5 separate regions of the Homo sapiens genome follow, and regions 2, 3, 4 and 5 are each linked to region 1. Evidence: fine-mapped expression QTL. A gene starts in region 1. Each other region holds a variant in brackets. All regions are shown on one strand. Distances are between the middles of the regions.

What was found. PIP is the estimated chance that this variant, and not a neighbour inherited with it, causes the effect.
Region 2: its variant is fine-mapped to the expression of BTBD1 in whole blood (INTERVAL, PIP above 0.99).
Region 3: its variant is fine-mapped to the expression of BTBD1 in whole blood (TOPMed, PIP above 0.99).
Region 4: its variant is fine-mapped to the expression of BTBD1 in whole blood (TOPMed, PIP above 0.99).
Region 5: its variant is fine-mapped to the expression of BTBD1 in lung (TOPMed, PIP above 0.99).

Annotation. Positions count from the first base shown.
Region 1 is chr15:83,064,721-83,068,870 of GRCh38, reverse strand. BTBD1 (BTB domain containing 1) reads left to right here and starts at 1,619. Exons shown (of 8, transcript NM_025238.4): 1 at 1,619-2,120. The coding sequence starts at 1,720. It overlaps MIR4515 (microRNA 4515), which reads right to left and starts at 1,536; the gene lies at 1,456-1,536. RefSeq lists enhancers at 1,172-1,221, 1,232-1,351 and silencers at 1,412-1,891, 2,132-2,301.
Region 2 is chr15:83,087,664-83,091,813 of GRCh38, reverse strand. No RefSeq gene overlaps it. Among named protein-coding and RNA genes, the nearest start is that of TM6SF1, 18 kb to the left of the region's middle. The variant G/A (reference allele first, on the strand shown) is at 1,682.
Region 3 is chr15:83,119,506-83,123,505 of GRCh38, reverse strand. It overlaps TM6SF1 (transmembrane 6 superfamily member 1), which reads right to left. Exons shown (of 10, transcript NM_023003.5): 4 at 3,825-3,928; 5 at 1,503-1,585; 6 at 628-749. It also overlaps a transcript of HDGFL3 not described here. Among named protein-coding and RNA genes, the nearest start is that of TM6SF1, 14 kb to the right of the region's middle. The variant A/G (reference allele first, on the strand shown) is at 2,350.
Region 4 is chr15:83,033,620-83,037,769 of GRCh38, reverse strand. The region is part of intron 4 of BTBD1 (BTB domain containing 1); the gene reads left to right. The region is part of intron 1 of LOC124903542 (a long non-coding RNA gene); the gene reads right to left. Among named protein-coding and RNA genes, the nearest start is that of C15orf40, 24 kb to the right of the region's middle. The variant T/A (reference allele first, on the strand shown) is at 1,871.
Region 5 is chr15:82,243,444-82,247,593 of GRCh38, reverse strand. All of the region lies in intron 4 of EFL1 (elongation factor like GTPase 1), which reads left to right. Among named protein-coding and RNA genes, the nearest start is that of EFL1, 17 kb to the left of the region's middle. The variant A/C (reference allele first, on the strand shown) is at 1,938.

The DNA.
Region 1 (4,150 bases):
GTGGAGAAACAAATATTAACTGTACATTAAATATTATACATAGGACCAGGCCTGGTGGCTCATGCCTGTAATCCCAGCACTTTGGGAGGCCGAGGCGGGTAGATCACGAGGTCAGGACTTGGAGAGGAGCCTGGCCAATATGGTGAAACCCCGTCTCTACTAAAAATACAAATAATTAGCTGGATGTGGTGACACGCACCTGTAACCCCAGCTACTCGGGAGGCTGAGGAGGAGAATCGCTTGAGCCCGGAAGGCAGACTTCATGCCATTGCACTCCAGCTTTGGCAACAGAGCGAGACTCCGTCTCAAAAAAAAAAAAATCATATATAGATGATTTGATGATATGGTTAATTTTGTTAGGTGTGATAATGGTATCATTAGTAGCATGATGTCCCTTTGTCTTTAGGAATTGCCGGCTGGCAATGGGGAAGGGGTTGTGCATCCACTATTTCAGCCCCTACTACTTTAAGTCTCTTCCCAAGCACGTTCCTCTCCCAAAGAAGTTACCATTCTAAATGCCTAACAGCTGGAAGTCCCCTCTGGTGGTTTCACAAGTGGAGTGATTTTACAGGAGAAACCCAGGTTTGGGGTTTACTATTTACTTGACGGCATTTGTAATCTGTAAGGCTCTTCCTGCAAAGAACAGGTGTTTCCAACTATACGTGCCTGGTCAAGGACTATTTCTTGGGTTTTCTACGTTCTGCTTTTGACAGCTGACTTAACTCAGGGCCTGCCTCACTGAAGGGAGAAAAAGGAAGGCCTCGGTCCCCCAATCATGATGACCGGGTTGTAAATACTGCCTGGGAAGGGATAATACAGCCTTTTCCATTGTGTGTGTGTTTTAGTTTTTAATTTTTTAAATTTCAAGCTTAGGCAGTGGTTCAGTGCAAGGACTGAAAAGCGCTACAAGAGAAGGTGGGCAAGCACGAGGGGTTTCAAATACAGGGGTGGAAGCAGTAGAAGGAAATGTCTCTTAGGCCCAGAGGACGGAACCAAAGGGTCAATTAGAAGGGAAAGGGACCTGCGGACCTGGGGAGAGGTCACTGGGGTTCTAAGCCTTCCACCTCTGCTTCCGGAATTTCCACGGGTTTCGCGGCCTTCTGGAGCGGCGACTTGGCCACGCTTGGGGTACAGGGTTGTGGGAAGTCATGTCATCCCCTCCCTCACGTGTTCCCTTGGCCATACTTTCCTGCCCCTCCACTTCCAGGCAAAACACTCCTCGGGACAGGCCTTGGGACATGTCCCAGATACACAATGGGGGCGCTGGACTTGGTGATAAGGGGCCTGCAGGAAGAAAAAGGCAGCCGTGAGAGCCGCCTGCAGATCCACGATGCATCTTAAAATTACAAATTCTCAGGCCCTACCCCAGACCTACTGAGTCAGAATACCCAGGGCACTGAGCCAGGGGGTGGGTGCCCGTAGGCCCGGCAGCACCCAGCCTGCAGAAGCTCCACCTCCGGGAGCGCTGAGCTAGGACCAGCTCCCCACGCCCCTGCCCTGGGGCTGCCGGGAGTCCAGTCCTGTTACACCTCCCGCGGCCGCGCACAGCGGCAACCCGGGCGTGCGGGGGCGCGCGCGGTCAGGGAGGGGCCTGCGGAGGCGCGAGGCCCCCGGAAGCGCCTTTCCCGGAAGGCAGGGAGGCAGCGCCGGCCTCCGGAGGCGGCCTGGGCGATGGCGGCGGAGTTTTGTCCATAACGTGGGCAACCGCGCAGCTGGAGGATGGCCTCACTCGGGCCTGCCGCAGCTGGGGAGCAGGCGTCGGGGGCTGAGGCGGAGCCGGGCCCCGCGGGGCCGCCGCCGCCGCCCTCACCGTCCTCTCTGGGGCCCCTGCTCCCCCTGCAGCGGGAACCTCTCTACAACTGGCAGGCGACCAAGGCGTCGCTGAAGGAGCGCTTCGCCTTCCTCTTCAACTCGGAGCTGCTGAGCGATGTGCGCTTCGTACTGGGCAAGGGTCGCGGCGCCGCCGCCGCTGGGGGCCCGCAGCGCATCCCCGCCCACCGCTTCGTGCTGGCGGCCGGCAGCGCCGTCTTTGACGCCATGTTCAACGGCGGCATGGCCACCACGTCGGCCGAGATCGAGCTGCCGGACGTGGAGCCCGCAGCCTTCCTGGCGCTGCTGAGGTGAGCGGCAGCGCGGGCCGGGCCGGGCCGGGCCGGGCCGGGCCGGGCCGGGCTGGGAGATCCCCGGGGCCCGGCCTACCCGGACTCCCGGATGACCTTGGGCTGGGCTCTTCTGACCCGCCCGGGGCCTCAGTTTCCTCCCGAGCCGTTGATGCTCCGGAGGGTCGAAATCGAAATCTGTGAACCAGGACGGCTCAGTCGCCAACTAAACGTTAGTGTCTTCATTAGGCAAGCGTGCGTTTTACCATTGAAAGGCGTTTCGCATTCCAATTATGGATTGTCGCTCAGACTTCAGAATTAGACAAGTGGCAAGGATAGAGGGGCAGATCAGGTTGTCCTGATTGCCCATTTGCGAAGTTTTATGTTTTTGTTTGGGGGAAGAGAGTAGTTGAAAAATCTTGCAGGACTGATGTTTTGGGGTTATTGTCACCCCCTTCCCCCCGCTTTTTTTGAGACAAGGTCTTGCTCTGTTGCCCAGGCTGGAATGCTGTAGCGCGATCATGGCTCACTGCAGCCTCGACCTCTCCGGGCTCAGGTGATGCTCCGACCTCAGCCTCCCGAGTATTTGGGACTACAGGCACGCGCCACCACGCCCGGCTAATTTTTTTTATTTTTATTTTTGGTAGAGAGAGGGTTTCACTATGTTGCCCAGGCTGGTCTCGGACTCCTGGGGTCAAGCGATCCGTCCACCTCGGCCTCCCAAAGTGCTGGGATTACAGGCGTGAACCACCGCGCCTGGCCACTTTTTTGTTTTTGTTTTTGTTTTTCATTAACGTATTAGTTGTCAAGACCCAGGAAAGTAAATACGAAAACAGACAAGTGAGGCTTTACCTGCTTTGTGTTTCTACACACAAGGTCACATTTGCTTATAAATGAATCCCTCCCTTGATGTTAGAATTTGCTTGTTGGTTATTTGAGGATAGTAGATTGACATCTAATGAAAAGGTGATTGTTTGGCATTACTAGCTTTTAATCACAGCCATCCTGTTAGGGAGGCGTAAGAATTGTTTACCCCAATTTCACAAATGGGACTGAGGCCCAGAAGAGTCAAGTATCTTGCCCAAGGTAACAAACAGCTAACTCACACTGAAGACCATGTCTGTTTCATTATACTAAGATGGTTTTAAATAGCTGCCTGAGTAGAACGTGTTGTTATTAAAATGGCAGAGTCTTGGGTAGTACTGAAGCAAAAACAGGCAGGTCAGTGGGACAGAATTAGATACAAAGGTTCACAGTTGAATCAGAAAGATGAACAAGAAAATGAATGTAAAGTTCACACAACTAGAAACAAATAATAAGATTCCATTGACGAATGGATAAAGGACAGGATAGATAACTTAGAGAAAGAAAAAATACAACTAATTAACGAATGTTTTACCTGGCTGGTAATTAGGAAGTGCAAATTAAAAGACAGTGGTATTTTTTCCTTCCATTAATCCCACCAAAAAATTTAAAGGTAACATCTGAACAGCATTTTCTGACAAAGATGGTGGTAAAAACCCTTTTGGAAAACAGTTTGGTGCTATAGATTTTCTTTCCACACGTAAGAAGCATTCAAGTATTGCAAATTGCATACAAAAATATTTACAGCTTTATTTATAGTAGTGAGGAAGTAGTCAGCTGTAGGGAATGGTTAAACAGTGGTAGGTTCACTTGATGAGATATAATGCAGTCACTAAATATGACGGATAGCACTTGAAACTGCACCATGGTTACAACGTGAAAAGACATGGAACAAACATATACCTAGAGACCGGGATAAAAGGAAACATACCAAAATGCTAAGCAAAGTCACCTGGAGTAGTGAGATGAAAGTACCTTTTTTTCTTCTTTATTCTTTGTTTCTGATATTTTCTGTAATTTAGTTCAGTTACATTTATAAAGGGGGGGGACCTCAAAAGCTAAAATCCAGGTCATTTTAGTTTAAAGTTCACCAGGAGGATTGGGTATAGTTCATTTGGATTTTCTAGACTAGAAGTAGTTTTCAAAATGATCTGTGGGCCGTCTGCATTATAATCTTCTGGGGTGCT
Region 2 (4,150 bases), 23 kb before region 1:
TCCTGAGGACTACAGGCACACACCACCATGCCTGGCTAATTTTTGTATTTTTAGTAGAAACGGGGTTACACCATGCTGGCCAGGCTGGTCTTGAACTCCTGACCTTGTGAGCTGCCCGTCTTGGCCTCCAAAAGTGCGGGGATTACAGGCATGAGCCACTGCGCCCGGCCTAATTTTGTATTTTTAGTAGAGATGGAGTTTCTCCATGTTGTCCAGGCTGGTCTCGAACTCCTGACCTCAGGTGATCTGCCCGCCTCAGCCTCCCAAATTTCTGGGATTACAGGTGTGAGCCACTGCGCCCATCCTAGTGAAACTTTTAAGCAGAGGAGTGACATGCTCAGCTTGGCCATTTTAGTAGCTTAGTCTGGTAGATATACAGAGAATGAGGTGAGGGGGTATGAACTAGGCAGCAAAGAGCTGAGAAGAGCAGTAATCTAAGCTACAAATGAACGGGTCTTGACTATGGCGGCTGCAACGAAAGGAGAAAGGAAAGGTTAATTAGGAATCAAATCTAAGAGTTTGATGATTAAATGGATGTTGAGAAACATGGACCACAGAAGAATTTAGGGATGACAGCTGGCTGGGAGAAGGAAAAGGAAAGGGAACTAAAAGGACTAAGGTATACTGAGAGATGCTGAGACCTATTTGGGTTCTTCTCTGAGGCCTGGAAACAAGGTCCTCCTTCCTTGTGCTTGTGGCTGCCCAAATAAAATCAAGTTTTATAAACCAGGGAAGAAAGGAGAAAAAGATGTTGGGTAGTGCTTATAAGATAGAAACTTGTTGTATGCTTGACGCATTACTTTCAGTGCCTGTCTTGATTCTCAAGCAACTCTACAAGGTACTGTTTTCACTGGGAACACATGAAGTTACAGGTAACAGAATGCATAAATCTGGTTTAAGCCATGAAGACATTTGAAAATCTGACATAAGAATCCTGGAGAAAGAAGTTTCCTTTTTAGCTGCAGTGGCTCAAGGATGTCATTAAGAACCCGGCCTCTTTATGTCTTCCTAATCCTCCTCCTCAACACGTTGGTTTTTCACTCTTAAGCTTGTCAACACAAGGCTTTTCCCTTTCCGGGATTTTATCTTTAACTAGGCTACAAGAATCTTTCCAAAAGCCTGCTTCCAGACTCTTCCATCTCATTGGCCATAATTGGCCACATGCTGAGTTCAGAAGCAATCTCTAGCAGGGGAACGGGCTAAGCTTCAATCAATCATGACTTTTCTCTGAGGCCTGGGGACAGGTATTCCTTCTTTGTACATGTTGTGGCCCAAATGAAATCAGGTTGTATTAACTAGGAAAGAAGAAGAAATAACTGTTAGGTAATGGTAGTAAGTCATATTTCCAACCTTCAGAACATCTGAGGAAAGGGGACAAAAAGAAAAAAGAATTGACCCAGGTCAATCTCCTAAATGCTTTTTTTTTTTTTGAGACAGAGTTTCACTCTATTGCCAGGCTGGAGTGCAGTGGCACAATCTCGGCTCACTACAACCTCCACCTCCCAGGTTCAAGCGATTCTCCTGCCTCAGCCTCCTGAGTTGCTGGGACTACAGGCAGGCACCACCACGCCCAGCTAATTTTTAGTAGAGATAGGGTTTCACCATGTTGGCCAGGATGGTCTCAATCTCCTGACCTTGTGATCCGCCCACCTCAGCCTCCCAAAGTGCTGGGATTACAGGC[G/A]TGAGCCACCACACCTGGCCCAATCTCCTAAATACTTATTGATGGCATTTACAATCAGAAAGATAACAAAAAGCCCTTATTTATGCAATAATTTACCAGGATATAGCTGATCTGTCAGCTGTGTAATTACTGAAGTATAAAACGAAGGTGTTTCCTGACCTCTTTGTGTAAGTTATATCCTGCATGCATCACTTAAAAACCTCCTATGTCCATTTTGTGCCAGGGTGCATCCTAATATGGCGAGAGAGGACCGGGAGCTGCACTGGTGGTCCTCAGCATCTCTGTGCTTGGCCCAAGTCTCAATATCATGTGTATCTTTCGAATTCTCAGTAAAGGCCAATACTGGATAAGATTACTGAGTCCTGTGAGTCTAATTGAACAATCTGATCTTTTATGTTATCCTAGGTAGGTAAACAACAATGTTATTATCCCCATTTGACAGAAGAAGAAATAGAAACCTAGCAAGGTTTAAAACCTTGCCCAGGCCGGGCACAGTGGCTCACGCCTGTAATCCTAGCACTTTGGGAGGCCAAGGCAGCCAGATATCCTGAGGTCAAGAGTTTGAGACCAGCCTGGCCAACATGGTGAAACTCCGTCTCTACTAAAAATACAAAATTAGCTGGGCGTGGTGGCGCGCACCTGTAATCCCAGCTCCTCAGGAAGCTGAGGCAGGAGAATCACTTGAACCCAGCAGGCAGAGATTGCAGTGAGCTGAGATTGCGCCACTGCACTCCAGCCTGGGCAACAAGAGAGAAACTCTGTCTCAATTAAAAACAAACAAACAAACAAACAAACAAACAAAAATCCTTGCCCAAATTCACCTAGCTATTGATGAGTAGACCAGGATAGCAGGATAGCAACTGGGGCTTAGCTAGTTTCTACCACAGCATGTGGCTAACTGGTTGGTGGTGTTATTCCCTGAAATAGGAATGTGATGAACTCTTTCCCCTCATCTCTGGACACAACTGTATGACATAGCTAGCACATTTCTGTCACATTCTTATATAAATGATCTGTTGAGGCCACAGGCTATCGTCAGACAGCCAGACATTCTTCCCGCTTCACTACCAGGATTTTGGCTGGATTTTTTTTAAGGTAGCAGAAATTTACTTACAAGGAATTGAAAGAGGCTCCAGGGAAGGAGATGTAGTCAGTTCAGTTTGACATGTCTGTAGGACACCAACAGATTTCTAGATGTTTGAATATTCAAAACAAGTATTATGCTAAGAATGATCAGGGCTGGAGATACAGCTTTGGAGATCACCAGCACTAGCTGAAATCATGGGAATCCATGAGATTAAGCAGAAAGTGGGTTGAGAGTAGGAAGTAGACAGCCAAGGATGGAAGCATGGGTAATACCAGTGCCCACGGTGGGGCAGAAGAGGAGGTTGTGATACAGCAAACTGAAAAGAAAACATTAGAGAAAGACAAGTGTGAAAAATTATAAAACTGTGTTACAAATTCCAGGTAAGGAGAGTTTCAAGGAGTGAATGGTCAACCACCAAGCCCAGTGAGGTCAAATAACATGACAGAAAAAGACTCATGGACTTGGCAGGTAGGAGATCACCAGCCAGTGGCCTTAGAGCCACTCAGGGGAGTGGTGGCCAGAGCCAGACCACAGCGGCATGAAGACTGTGAGGAGATGAAAATGTGGAGTGAAGAAACTTTGATAGGAAGGAAGAAGAAAGGAAGACACTCAGAAGCTGAAGCAGAGGCTTTGAGGAGATGTTTTTCTGTTAGGGAAATTAGTTATGTATTTGTGGATATCAAGGAAAGGAACCAGTGGAAATGGAGACATCAAAGTCACCAGAAAGGAAATGGACAGGCCAGGCACGGTGGTTCACGCCTGTAATCCCATCACTCTGGGAGGCTGAGGCGGGTGGATCACCTGAGGTCAGGAGTTCGAGACCAACCTGGCCAACGTGGAGAAACCCCATCTCTACTAAAAATACAAAATTAGCCGGGCATGGTGGCGCATGCCTGTAATTGCAGCTACCTAGGAGGCTGAGGCAGGAGAATTGCTTGAACTCGGGAGATGGAGGTTGTGGTGAGCCAAGATCGCAACACTGCACTGCAGTCTGGCCAACAAAAGCAAAACTCCGTCTCAAAAAAAAAAAAGAAAAAAAAATGGACAGGTAATTTAGCAAGACAGCAAGGGAATAAACTCAACAGCAAAGATGGAAAATTTAGCCTTGAAAAGAAGGGAAATTTCTGAGGCTGGAAGGAAAGAGATAAGCAGACCTACTTATAGCTGGGTTGATTTAGTTTCTGTTGGCTGGGAAATGAGTAAAGATGGGCAAAGTTAAATAAAATGTGTTCACATAATCAGTCTGGTCTATATTTATTTCCCTGTAACCAGAGAGGCAGCATATTCTAGCATCGTAGACTCTGAAACCCAACCTGCTGCTTTGAATTTTACTTCTGGCCATGACATGCTTTTTCGTGGAAGGTCATATTTATATCACTGCA
Region 3 (4,000 bases), 55 kb before region 1:
GATCTTGCTAAATGATCTAATACCTAGAAAAGTAAAAGAAACAGAGAGAAACTAGCTTAGAAATGAAGGCCTTAACAGAGTATCTGCCAGGCCAGTGCTGTTTCACCTTGACTACCTTGGCTGTGAATGGAAGGGAGGTGTCTCAGATGTCCTGTAGCCAGTCTCTATGGGCCTGGATCTCTGGAGTCAAGATTGTATGGCTGTGTAGACTACCTTGAGGAGCAGTATCCCTCCAGTGTCCTCTTGGGGTAGTAAATGCATAGGTGTCACAGAGGAACCCAGGTGTTCAACGTCCAGGCCATTAACAATCCTAGATGAACCACACACTATGGACTTCACTTGACACACTAATGCAGAATCTGATAGTTAGAGCCAGTGTGACCACTGGCACAGGAAGCTCCCCAAAGTATGGCCTTGCCAACAGAAGCAGATGTATTCAGACAGAAACAGACCTTCTTGCCTACATTAATTAATACGTAAGCTAATGCTACATAATCAAAACAGTCGCACTGTTTGGATGCCCCAAATGCTCCAGTCCACAGAGGCATGGTTCAATTCAGTGGCCAGTGGATGCGAAAGAACCCTATGAGTTTGAGAACAGGGTACATCAAAGCTTAATAAAATCACCTTTGAGGGGTAATTATAATTTTCTGATGGCTGATTATAGATTCTGAAACCAGCCCAGACAGGAAGACAAGTATATGGTATGCTTAAGAAAAAAGCAGGGCAAATTCGTGTTCCATACTTCCCTATTTAAAAGAGAGAAAGAGAAAGAAGTTACCAAAAGCATATCTAACACAAGTAATATTTAGGATACCTCCCCATCTCAGGTCATCTAAAATTTTGCTATGGGCCAGACAATATTTTTAATGAGGCCAAATTAAAAAGGTCAATTTAAAATACTAGATGTGTATTAACAGGCATGTCCTATCTACAGTAATCTGCTTGAGCCCAGGAGATCAAGGCTGCAGTGAGCTATGGCTGTACCACTGCAAGCCAGCCTGGGCAACAGAGTGAGATCCTGTCTCAAAAAATACATCTAGATAGGTATCTATATATGTTTGTATATATCTATCTCCCTATATCTATATCTATCTATCTATCTATCTACCTATATATCCTGATTTCCTGCATACATTAATAATGTACTTGTAATTTCCAAGTACATTTTTGGAGTTCTCATAGTGTGTCAGGAGTTAACATATTTGCACACTAAATATAGCCATAAACACCATACTCACTCCCTCAAGATCCTTCTAAAAAAACAGGAATCCCTGATAACTTGACTGCCAAATTGTTCAATGCACACATCTGAAAATTGCTCAAAGCACTTCTTAAAAAGTACTTTTTTTAAAGGTGAGAAAAAGGAATTATTCTGCAAAACAGGTTTTTAGTAAGCTTGGAATCACTTGGTTCTATTATAACTAAAAGAGCTTCTCTATTTAAAAACAAGCCCCATTGTTTTAGAAAAGGAAAGTGAACTTTAAGATAAAGTTTCTTACCTACAATGTTTCCTGGCACAAAAACAACAACACTCATAATAATAGATCCAACCCAATATAGGCCAATGGTTCTATAAGTTTCCCTGTAACAACAACAACAAAAAAATCTTGACTTGGTATGTTTGTCTTAGAATACTAAGCAAAAAATGATCTTCAATATTATTTTGTATTCAAACTAGTAAAGTACATCAATCAAAACATATTGAATTGAGAGGAATAAATCAAACACAAGGAGCCCTGGTTATGTAACTTCATTGCCATGTGATATACTATAGAACCTTCTTCGTGTCCTTTTAAATAGGAAATTACGCCTGCTATGTCTTCTGTTAAACTACAACATGATCATCCCTGCCACAGGACTCCTGCATTTCCCTATTGTGTGTGAAACTCAACAGCATGAAAGGAAAAAGAAAGTTGAAAGAAGAAATGAAATTGGATCCATATTTTTAATCATTATAAGTATGAGTTATACTTACAATGATAATGTTAAATGGACTTTTTCTGGGGTCACAGAATTTTGGCCAAAGCCCCAAAGGTGAAGACAAGTGACATGTACCCCATGTTGCAAAGGAGCTGCTAGACATATACCCCAAATCTTCAATGCTGACAAAAACTTCCTTCAGGCCGAGCATGGTGGCTCATGCCTGTAATCCCAGCACTTTGAGAAGCTGAGGTGGGCAGATCACTTGAGGTCAGGAGTTTGAAACCAGCCTGGCCAACATGGTGAAACGCCATCTCTACTAAAAGTACAAAAAAAAAAAAAAAATTAGCTGGGCATGGTGGCATGCACCTGTAATTCCAGCTACTTGGGAGGCTGAGGCAGGAGAAATGGTTGAACCTGGGAGGC[A/G]GAGGTTACAGCGAGCCAAGATCGCACCACTGCACTCCAGCCTGGGTGACAGAGCGAGACTCCGTCTCAAAATAAAAAAAAAAAGTTCCTTCAATTGATAACCCCAATAACCCAAACTCCACACTATGTAACAGGCTATGAGAAATTCAAAAGGAAATTCTCTGAAGGGAAACGAGAATACTGTGTGCGTCCTGCCCCACCCCCGCCCTCAAGCCAAATGTAACCAGACCCCAAGAGGCCCATTCATAATGACTGGGATTATAAGCAGGAGAACAGATAAGAATGAGCTGGAGCCGGGCACGGTGGTTCACGCCTGTAATCCCAGCACTTTGGGAGGCTGAGGCGGGCAGATCACCAGAGGTCAGGAGTTTGAGACCAGCCTGGCCAACATGGTGAAAAAAATGTTTAGATTTGTGTACTAAAAATACAAAATTTGCGGGTATAGTGACACACGCCTGTAGTCCCAGCTGAGGCCTGAGAATCGCTTGAACCTGGGAGGCGGAGATTGCAGTGAGCTGAGATTGTGCCATTGCACTCCAGCCTGTCTCAAAAAAAAAAAAAAAAAAAAAGAATTAGCTGGAGCTGACCTTGAGTGCATGTTGGGAGTGAGGGAGATACTTGGGTAAACTACATTTCAACCTTGTATGGGGCAAGAATGCATGACTTTCTGTAACCCAGAAGCAAGTGGAGGCCTGAGAAGATGGCCGGACTTGAAATGTTTTGAAAAGACCCCTCCCCAAAGGGTGTACCTTCTGGGTTACAGGGGCCCCAGCAGAAAAAAAGCTGTGGGTGTGCCACCATGGGCAGAAATTCAGCCCAAGAGCACGTCGTTCACTTCAGGGATTAGTGCAATGCAGAAGCTCCTGTGGTTGGGGTCTCTAAAGAACTCACATGTGTGCCTCCCAAGACCAAGCTAGCATATCATGATGGGGGTACCAATACCCAAAAACCAGCACCTTTCACATCAGACTCGGCTCCTGTTCCTTTAATCCCTTGTACATACACATCCACTGCCAAGGGGCCAGCCGCAGAGTGAGACAGGAGGAGTGAACGGACAAGCCATGTAGCCAAGCCTTAGTGCGAGCCAAGCCGCAGAGCTGTGCCTGATCTGGGGAAGGACAGAAGCTTTGAACCGAAATGAGATTGCTGTTTGGAAATTTTGAAGTTTTGAAATGAAGTTTAAGATGTGCTTAGCTTTAATTGCTGAAAATAAAAATTATTCTTGTAAGACAACATAATCAGAAAGCTTAAAGGGTCTGCCCGAGCTGTCACCATGCTAGGGAGCAATTCAGAAGGACATATTCAAAAGGCAGTGGTACAAGGAGGATAAAGCCACGTCTGACGTGCACCCATGGAACTTATATTCATGTCCAGTATACCTGCTTGTGTATTTGCCTCTATGCATAACGTTTCCTTACATACCCGCTTATCGGTTGCTAAGGTGGCAAAGGCACACACCAGGTGAACTGACTTACTCCCATGCTATGGCTGCCACCATCACCAGGTACATCAGATAATGAGCAGAGCCATCCCAGTAGCAGATCATGTGCCCATATGCGGTGTTCAGATACGGTTCACCCTAAAGAAAGCATTAAAAAGAAGTCCACTTTAAATAAGACCTGTAAATGCAGAACATCAGACCTGTATTGCA
Region 4 (4,150 bases), 31 kb after region 1:
AAGCATATCATCTGTGAAGAGAGATAGTTTGACTTCTTTTCTTATTTGGGTGCATTTTATTTCTTTTCCTTTCCTGATTGCTCTGGCTGGGACTACCAGTACTATGTTGAATAGGAGTGGTTAGAGTGAGCATCCTTGTCTTTTTCTAATTTCAAGGTGAATGCCTCTAGCTTTTGCCCTTTCAGCATGATGTTAGTTGTGGATTTATCATAGATGGCTCTTGTTATTTTGGGGATATTGTTTTGATGCCTAGTTTGTTGAGGGCTTTTATCATGAAGAGATGCTGGATTTTATTGAATGCTTTTTCATGTCTATTGAGACAGTCATATGGTTTTTATTTTTAACACTATTTCATGATTGTTTTGAATTGTATTACTTTTTATTTTTCGATTTTATTTTAGTTTTAAAGATGAAGTCTTGCCATGTTGCTCAGGCTGGCCATGAGCTTCTGGGCTCAAGTGATTCTTCCACCTTCACCTCTTAGCCAGTGTGCCTGGCTGAATTGTATTTCATTATGCTTATTGGCCTATTTATTTTCCTTTACATTATTCATGTCTTTTGTTGTTCTGTTGGTGTGTTCAAATTTTGTTTTACTGGTTTATCTTACATTGATTCTTTGTATATTTATTATTATACCAAATTTTTTTTTCTGACTTATACTTGTTCCAATTTTCTCCAAGATTGTTTTTGTTTTTGCTGATAAGAATCAGTGTTTGGGTTTTTTTTAAATAAACTTTTGAAATTAAAGTTTAACATCCATATAGTAAAATTAACAAATAAAGTGAACATACTTATTTAACCAATTTATCCTACTGTACTAGTACCCCAGAAGCCTTTGTCATGACCCTCTAAGTCACTAATCTCCCTCTGAAAGGTGACTACTTTCTGTCTTCTATAAATTAGTTGTGTCCATATGTAAACTTTATATAAAGGAAATCATATATATGGTGTGTATTCATTTTTGTGTGGCTTCTTTCTCTTAACATTACGCCTGTTAGATTCATCCATGTGGTTGAGTGTGGCAGTAGTTCATTCTTTTTCATTGCTTTATAATATTCTGTTATACAACTGTGCCATGATTTATCCATTTTACTGTTGTTGGATATATGGATTATTTCTGTTTGGGGACCATTGAGGCCATTCTTGTACGTGTGATTTGGTATACATACGTAAACATTTCTGTTGGATATATACGAGTGGAATTGCTAAGTCATGGAGTGTGCATATGGTCGGCTTTAGTAGATCCTGCCATCCTGCCAAACAGTCCCTTAAAGTGGTTGTAACAGTTTACACTCATCAACAAAGTGAAGAGACATAAGAGTTTGTTTTGGTTGCCCACATCCTCTCCAATACTTGGTATTGTCAGTTTTTGTAGTTCTAGCCATTTGTGTGGATGTGAGGACGTATTTCATTTTGGTTTTAAATTTCATATCACGGATGATTAATGATGTTGAATATGCCAATAATTTTTTAATCCAGTCTGACAGACTTTGTCTTTTATCTGAACTGTTTTGGTTCACTTGCACTTAATGTAATTACAGATATATTTGGGTTTATGTTTACCATCTTGCAATTTGTTTTCTACTTGTCACATCTTTTTTTTTTTTTTCCTTTCTTGCTTTCTTTTAGAGGAATCAAGCTATTATTCTTTTTTTTTTTTTTTTTTGGTAATGATACAGTTTTCCCCCTTATTCTGTGAATATAGTGAACTACATTAATTGATTTCCCAATTTAAACCTATTTTGGATTCCTTACGTAAATCAGACTTGGTTGTTATGCATTATCCTTTTTATATATTACTGGATTTAATTTGCTGAATTTTTAATGTATTTTTATGACTACTGAATGAGAGAAATTAGTCTATATATAT[T/A]TTTTTTTCTTGCAATGAAATTGTCAAAATTGTCCTCATACAAAAGTTAGAAATATTTCCTTTTTTTCCCCCAGTGTTCAAGAGTTTGTATTATTAATTTTCTCCTGGAACCAACTTCTAGCTTTATTAATTTTCTCTATTACAGTATGTTTTCCATTTCATTACTTTCTGCCTTTTTCTTTATTACTTTCTTTCCTTTCTTTGCTTTTAATTTGCTGGGGTTATTTATTTTATTAGTCTTTGTGACTTTTTGAGATACTTAGAAGGTCAACCTATATTCTTTTTGAATGCATATATTTAAGTGTATATTTTTTCTCTCAGCATCCTTCCCCCCCACAGTTTTTAATATGTGTATTTTCATTAGCATTCGATTAAGAATTTTTAATTTTTGCTTTTTTTTTCTTTGACTCATAAATTATAGATAACTTAATTTCCAAATATTTGAGATTTCTTCTTATCTTGCTCTTGCTGATTTCTGTCTTAATTCCAGTATAGTCAGAAAATATATTCTATATCATTTCAATGCTTTGAAATTTGTTGATATCTGCTTTGGCCCAGCATATGGTAGTTTTATTTATTTTTTATTATTTTGTTTTATTTATTTTTGAGACAATGTCTCACTCTGTCACCCAGGCTGGAGTGCAGTGGCATGATCTTGGCTCACTGTAACCTCCGCCTCCTGGGGTCCAACGATTCTCCTGCCTCAGCCTCCCCGGTAGCTGGGATTACAGGCATGCGGTGCCACGCTCGGCTAATTTTTATATTTTTAGTAGAGACAGGGTTTCACCATGTTGGCCAGACTGGTCTCAAACTCCTGACCTCAGGTGATCCACCCATCATGGCCTCCCAAAATGCTAGGATTACAGGCATGAGCCACCGTGCCTGGCCCATACGGTAGTTGTAATAAGTATCCATGTATACTTGAGAAGAATGTATTCTTCTTTGTTATGTGCAGAAAAACCTGAATAGTCCTGTATCTGTTCAACAGATTGAATACTATATCTATGAAAGGAATATATACTAATGATCTTCAAATTTTCTATGTATCTATCTATTGATTTGCTTTTTGTTCTATCAGTTACTAAAAGAAGTAGATTTAAATCTCAGGGTATGATTGAGAATGTGTTTCCTTTTGGTTCCATCAGTTTTCTTCTTTATTTTCTTCTTTATTTTAGGTACCTTCAAATTTAGGATTTTTTTTTATATTGAATTTGCTTCTTTATCTTTACAGTCTATCTCATCTTAAATCTAAACTTATTGTGGGTTTTTGTTTTTTATTTTATTTTTTGAGACAGTCTCCCTCTGTCACCCAGGCCGGAGTTCAGTGGCACAATCTTGGCTCACTGCAACGTCCACCTTCTGGGTTCAGGCAATTCTCATGCCTCAGCCTCCTTAGTAGCTGGGACTACATGTGTGCACCACCACACCCTGCTAAATTTTGTATTTTTAGTAGAGATGGGGTTTTGCCATGTTGGCCAGGCTAGTCTCGAACTCCTGGCCTCAAATGATCAGCTTGCCTCAGTCACCCAACATTCTGGCATGAGCCACCACGCCTGGCCTAAACTTCTTGTTTTAAAGTCTTTGTCTGATATTGGTATAGTTTCTCAAGGTTTTTTAAATTCTATATCTTTCTCATCCTTTTACTTTTAGCCTTACATTATTTTGACCATGTCTCTTGTAAGCTTCATTTTTAAAAAATTCAGTCTGACAGACTTTGCCTTTTATTTGGAATATTTGGTTCACTTTATATTTAATATGATTAATAGTCTATTAAACTTTCTTTTTCTTTTTCTTTTTTTTTTTTTTTTTGGTGTAGACAGTGTCTCCTCTGTCACCCAGGCTGGAATGCAGTGGCATGATCTCAGCTTACTCCAGCGTCAACCTCCTGGGCTCAGGTTATCCTCCCACCTCAGCCTCCCGTATTAAAGATTCTTTTATTATTATTTTAGTGGGTTGCCCTTGTTATTACAAGAATATATCCTTATTGATTTTTAAATTAAATCTTAAAAATTAAATTTTTTAGATGGGGCACAGTGGCTCATGCCTTTAGTCCCAGCACTTTGGGAGGCTGAGGCAGGTAGATTGTTTGAGTCGAGTTCAAGACCAGCCTCGGCAAAATGGCGAAACCCTGTCTTTACAAAAAAAAATTTAAAAATTAGCCTGGAGTGGTGGTACACACCTGTAGTCCCAGCTACCTGGGGGGCTGAGGTGGGGATCACTTGAGCCCAGGAGTTCAAGGCTGCAGTTAGCCGTGATCACACCACTGCACTCCATACCTGG
Region 5 (4,150 bases), 820 kb after region 1:
GTATCTCTGGGTTAGCATATGGGATTGCCATTCTTTTTGTTCCCAGATCTGATTACAAAAGTTAATTCTTCTACCCTTGTTTTCAAACTTCTTCTTTCAAGACTCAGACCATCCAATTATTCACCTTTCCAGTCATTGTCAGCTCCTGGTGATGGTTCCTGTTCATTAGTGAATTTGGCACCCGGACTCATAATTGTTCTTTTTACCTGAATCTTCTAAGGTGGCTTTTCACCATCCCTGAGAATGACTTCTTCAACAGCTTATCCTCTCAACAACATTGATTCTGCGTTTCACCTACCTGTTGTCATGAATACTTTCTGGATTTTAGCATCACCTTGAGCTATCCATCTTCGACCTTTCAAACTTAAATACTTCCTTCTCTACAATCTTTGATTCTCCCAGCTCTTTCTTTCACCTGATTAATGAGGTACCCATTCTTTGACTTCATAATGTTCTCTAGTTTTTTTGACTCCCCACAGCCTCTTTCTTCATTCATTTCCTGCTTCATACAGCCCAGATTTGTCATTTCACTGACAGTCTTGCCAGCGTCTTCAGTCTCTTTGGTTCTTGACCTTCTGTCATATTTTTCCCAACAAAACTTTAACCCTTGATAAAGCTAATTCTCTACACGTCTTCATCCTTGCATTTGGGCTAGGTTCTCAAGTGGTCCTCCAGACTGCTGGCAGATTTCCCATCTCTCACTGTTAGGTCTTGCTCATTCTTCCCAATACCTATTTTAAACCTTCTGGTCTCTTTCAGCCTACCTGTCATCCCCTCCTCCACAATCTCAGCAGACATTCTTACCTTCTATTTCACAGAAAAGAGAAGAATTCTCACCTGCTTGCCACTGTATCTCAAAACGTAATGGTATGGGCATTTTTTGCTTGCCTCCTGTCACTGGCAAAAACCTGTGCTCTGGACTTAATGATCTTTTCTTCAGTATCTTCCACCTCTCCCTCTGTACTGGCTTGTATCCATCAGCTTTTAAGCATGCTCAAGTCTTTCTTGTCTTTCTTGTCTTAAAAAAATACATAAATCCTTCTTTCAGCCCCACATTCCTCTGCATTTTCCCTCTTCCCCCTTCTTAGTCAAAGTTATCCTACAATTACTCTCTCAATTACTCCGATAATGAGACTAGCACCTTACAGTAATGACATGCATTAGCAGTGTGAAATTGGTCCTTGATCTATGACCTTCTCTCCAGGGTGATGCTAAGCATAGAGAGATTATAAGAAGTAAACATCAACCTTTTTTTTACTCCAGGGTTTCTTATTCTGGTTCTTACACCCTTCCAAGCAAAACTGCCAATGATCAAAGGAATCAAGACAATGTGGATGTGTAATTATTAGATTTACTATCTACGCAGCAGGCCTTGAAAGGTGGAGAAGTTCTCAGTGATGTCAGAGTTCAGGGTGTGGCCACAGTACTGGGTGGCAGATGTGGACTGGCATCATACTGAGAAAAACCAAAAGCGGGTGAGGCCAAATGTAATCAGAAGTGGTCTGTACGTGGTCTAGTTTCATGTTGGAGGAAGGTCTGGAGAGGTCTTCGGGTCGGGTTTGTGCAGCAAAAGAAAACTTAATCAGTTTGCTATTCATAGTTGTTTCTAGATCATTTTTCCTCTCATTTTCCTAACCCCTGTCACTTTTTTTTTTTTTTTAAGACAAGAGTCTCATTCTATCACCCAGGCTGGAGTGCAGTGGTGATCATAGCTCACTGCAGCCCAGAACTCCTAGGCTCAAGCAGTCCTCCTGCCTCAGCCTCCCGAGTAGCTAATACTGCAGGCATGTGCCACCATGCCTGGCTAATTTTTTAAATTTTTTTGTAGAGATGATGGTCTTACCATGTTGTCCAGGCTGGTCTTGGCTCAAGTGATCTTCCTGTTTTGGCCTTCCAAAGCATTTGGATTATAGGTATGAGCCACTGTGCCTGACCCC[A/C]TCTCAGTTTTGACACATACTATCAGAGTCAACCACCCTTCACCTCTCCTTGTGGCAGGCTTCTCATAAAGATAGTTACCCTGTTACCTGTGTCAGCTTTACAATTGTGCTTTACAGTTCTGTCAAATAATAAGTCGTATTAGTTGATTTATAACTTATAATGTTATACATTGATTTAAAATATAAAAGGATAATAGTGATTTAAGATATAAAAGGAAACCAGGTGCAGTGGCTCACATCTGTAATCCCAGCACTTTGGGAGACTGAGGCAGAAGGATCACTTAGGGACAGGAGTTTGAGACCTGCCACGGCAACACAGTGAAACCCCATCTCTACAAAAAATAAAAGTTACCCTTGTGTGCCTGCAGTCCCTGCTACTTGGGAGGCTGAGGCAGGAGGATCGCTTGAGCCCAGGAATTTGAGGCTGCAGTGAGCTATGATTGTGCCACTGCATCCAGCCTGAATGTTTCAGTGAGACCCTGTCTCTAAAAAAAACAAAAAACAAAAAAAAGTAGTATTTCCTGTGGAGGGAGACTTGTGGTTACTTTATATATAGTTGGGGTACAATTTTTGTATATAATTGTTAGAAGTTCATACATAAGGAATGTAGGAACATGTCTTCAGATAACTCAGGTTCTGCCTATATTTCTGTTATTTTTGTTGTCAGGCAAAATACTCTACCAATACACTGACACATAAAGGACACTTTCAGGAGGTTCAGATCTTCTTCCATAACTTCAGTTTTTCTTTTTTATTTTATGGAAAGTTTTCTCTCATCAGCTTTCTATGTATGCTTTAGTGAGCATTTCCAGTGTTTTGGAAGTTGAACACTAAACTCCTTACATGAAGTTTTACTGAATACAGAGATGTTTTGGCAGGTCCTAGTGACAAATGTGCACCTTCTGTGAGACAATTATCCATGGCACTTTAAAACCATGGGCAAGGGAGGAATTCTTTTCCCATAACTCCCTATTAGCAGCAGAAATTGTCTGGAAGATATCTCCCATAATTAACTTCAGTTCTTCCAACTTTTTTTTCAGCCCCCTGGAACATAAAAAGATTGGATTGTTGCTTGACTGATTAGATCTGTGCCTTGAAATGAAGCCGTTTAGTTTGGAATGCCTGGGAAGTAAAGCAGCAGAAGTTTCTGTCCCTGAATGCTATTGCAGGGATTAATTCAACATATAGCTTCAGGACTTTGTTACAAATCGGAAAGATCATTTAGCATGCTTAAAAAATTTTGTCTCTTGAAAAGTGTTATGCATTCTCTACTTTTTAAATAATTAATACTGGCAATAACAATAATATCTACCATGGTAAACCCCTATAACTGCGTTTATGTATTTTTTAATTTGATCACACACACGCAAAAGTGGTAAGTGGCATTTTTTAAAGAGACATAATGTGGCTGAAGTCACAGCAGAAGAGCTGTGCTTGGGGACGTTTTTTCTCTAATGGATATGGGACTTCTGTCCCCAACCTTTGAAATTTAGGTTAACGTTGTTTGGAAAGGGTTAAGATGAAAAAGGCATTGAAGGAGGAATTGGGAGGCCTGGCTCAGAGCTGAGCCAAGCCTTTGTCAGCTGTGTAACTGACCATGGCATTTCCTCCTTCTCACCATTAAATATATTTGAGAAACTCCAGGTTAAACAGAATTGGACAAACTTCTTTTACAGGGCTTCTCTGAACCTTTAATATGTATGTGTGATGTGAGCTCCAAGGCTGGCTGTTTATTTCTCAGCTATATTATTTGATCAGACACTTATTTTTTAGGATGTAGATTGTCGGGTGGAAACACTTGGTGTATCTCTAGCTTTCAGTTCCTCTCTAGATCTGAACCTGCCCTTCCTGAATGAATTTCAAAGAATCTGGAAATGGACGCGTACTTAGGGGAGCATAGATAAGTAGATAGGTATTCGTTTTTCTGACTATTCCCTAAAAGGTCTGTAACTCCAATAAAAGGTAAGAGCACTGTTGTATAGGAAGCCTGAAATGTCTGTACGAGTGCATTTTTAGACTCTGTAAAGAACTTGACTGGAGACCCAGTCTCTGAAACTTCAGTATCAGGTCCCGGTCGTATCACAAAGGATGGAAAAGTGCTTGAAGTTCTCCCACTCTAAAGTCTGGAGTTTAGCCAGATGAATAGGCAAGTGTTGTTTCCCCAGTTGCAAAGTATGAAGGAATCTAAGACCCGAGAAGTGACTAAGATGGTT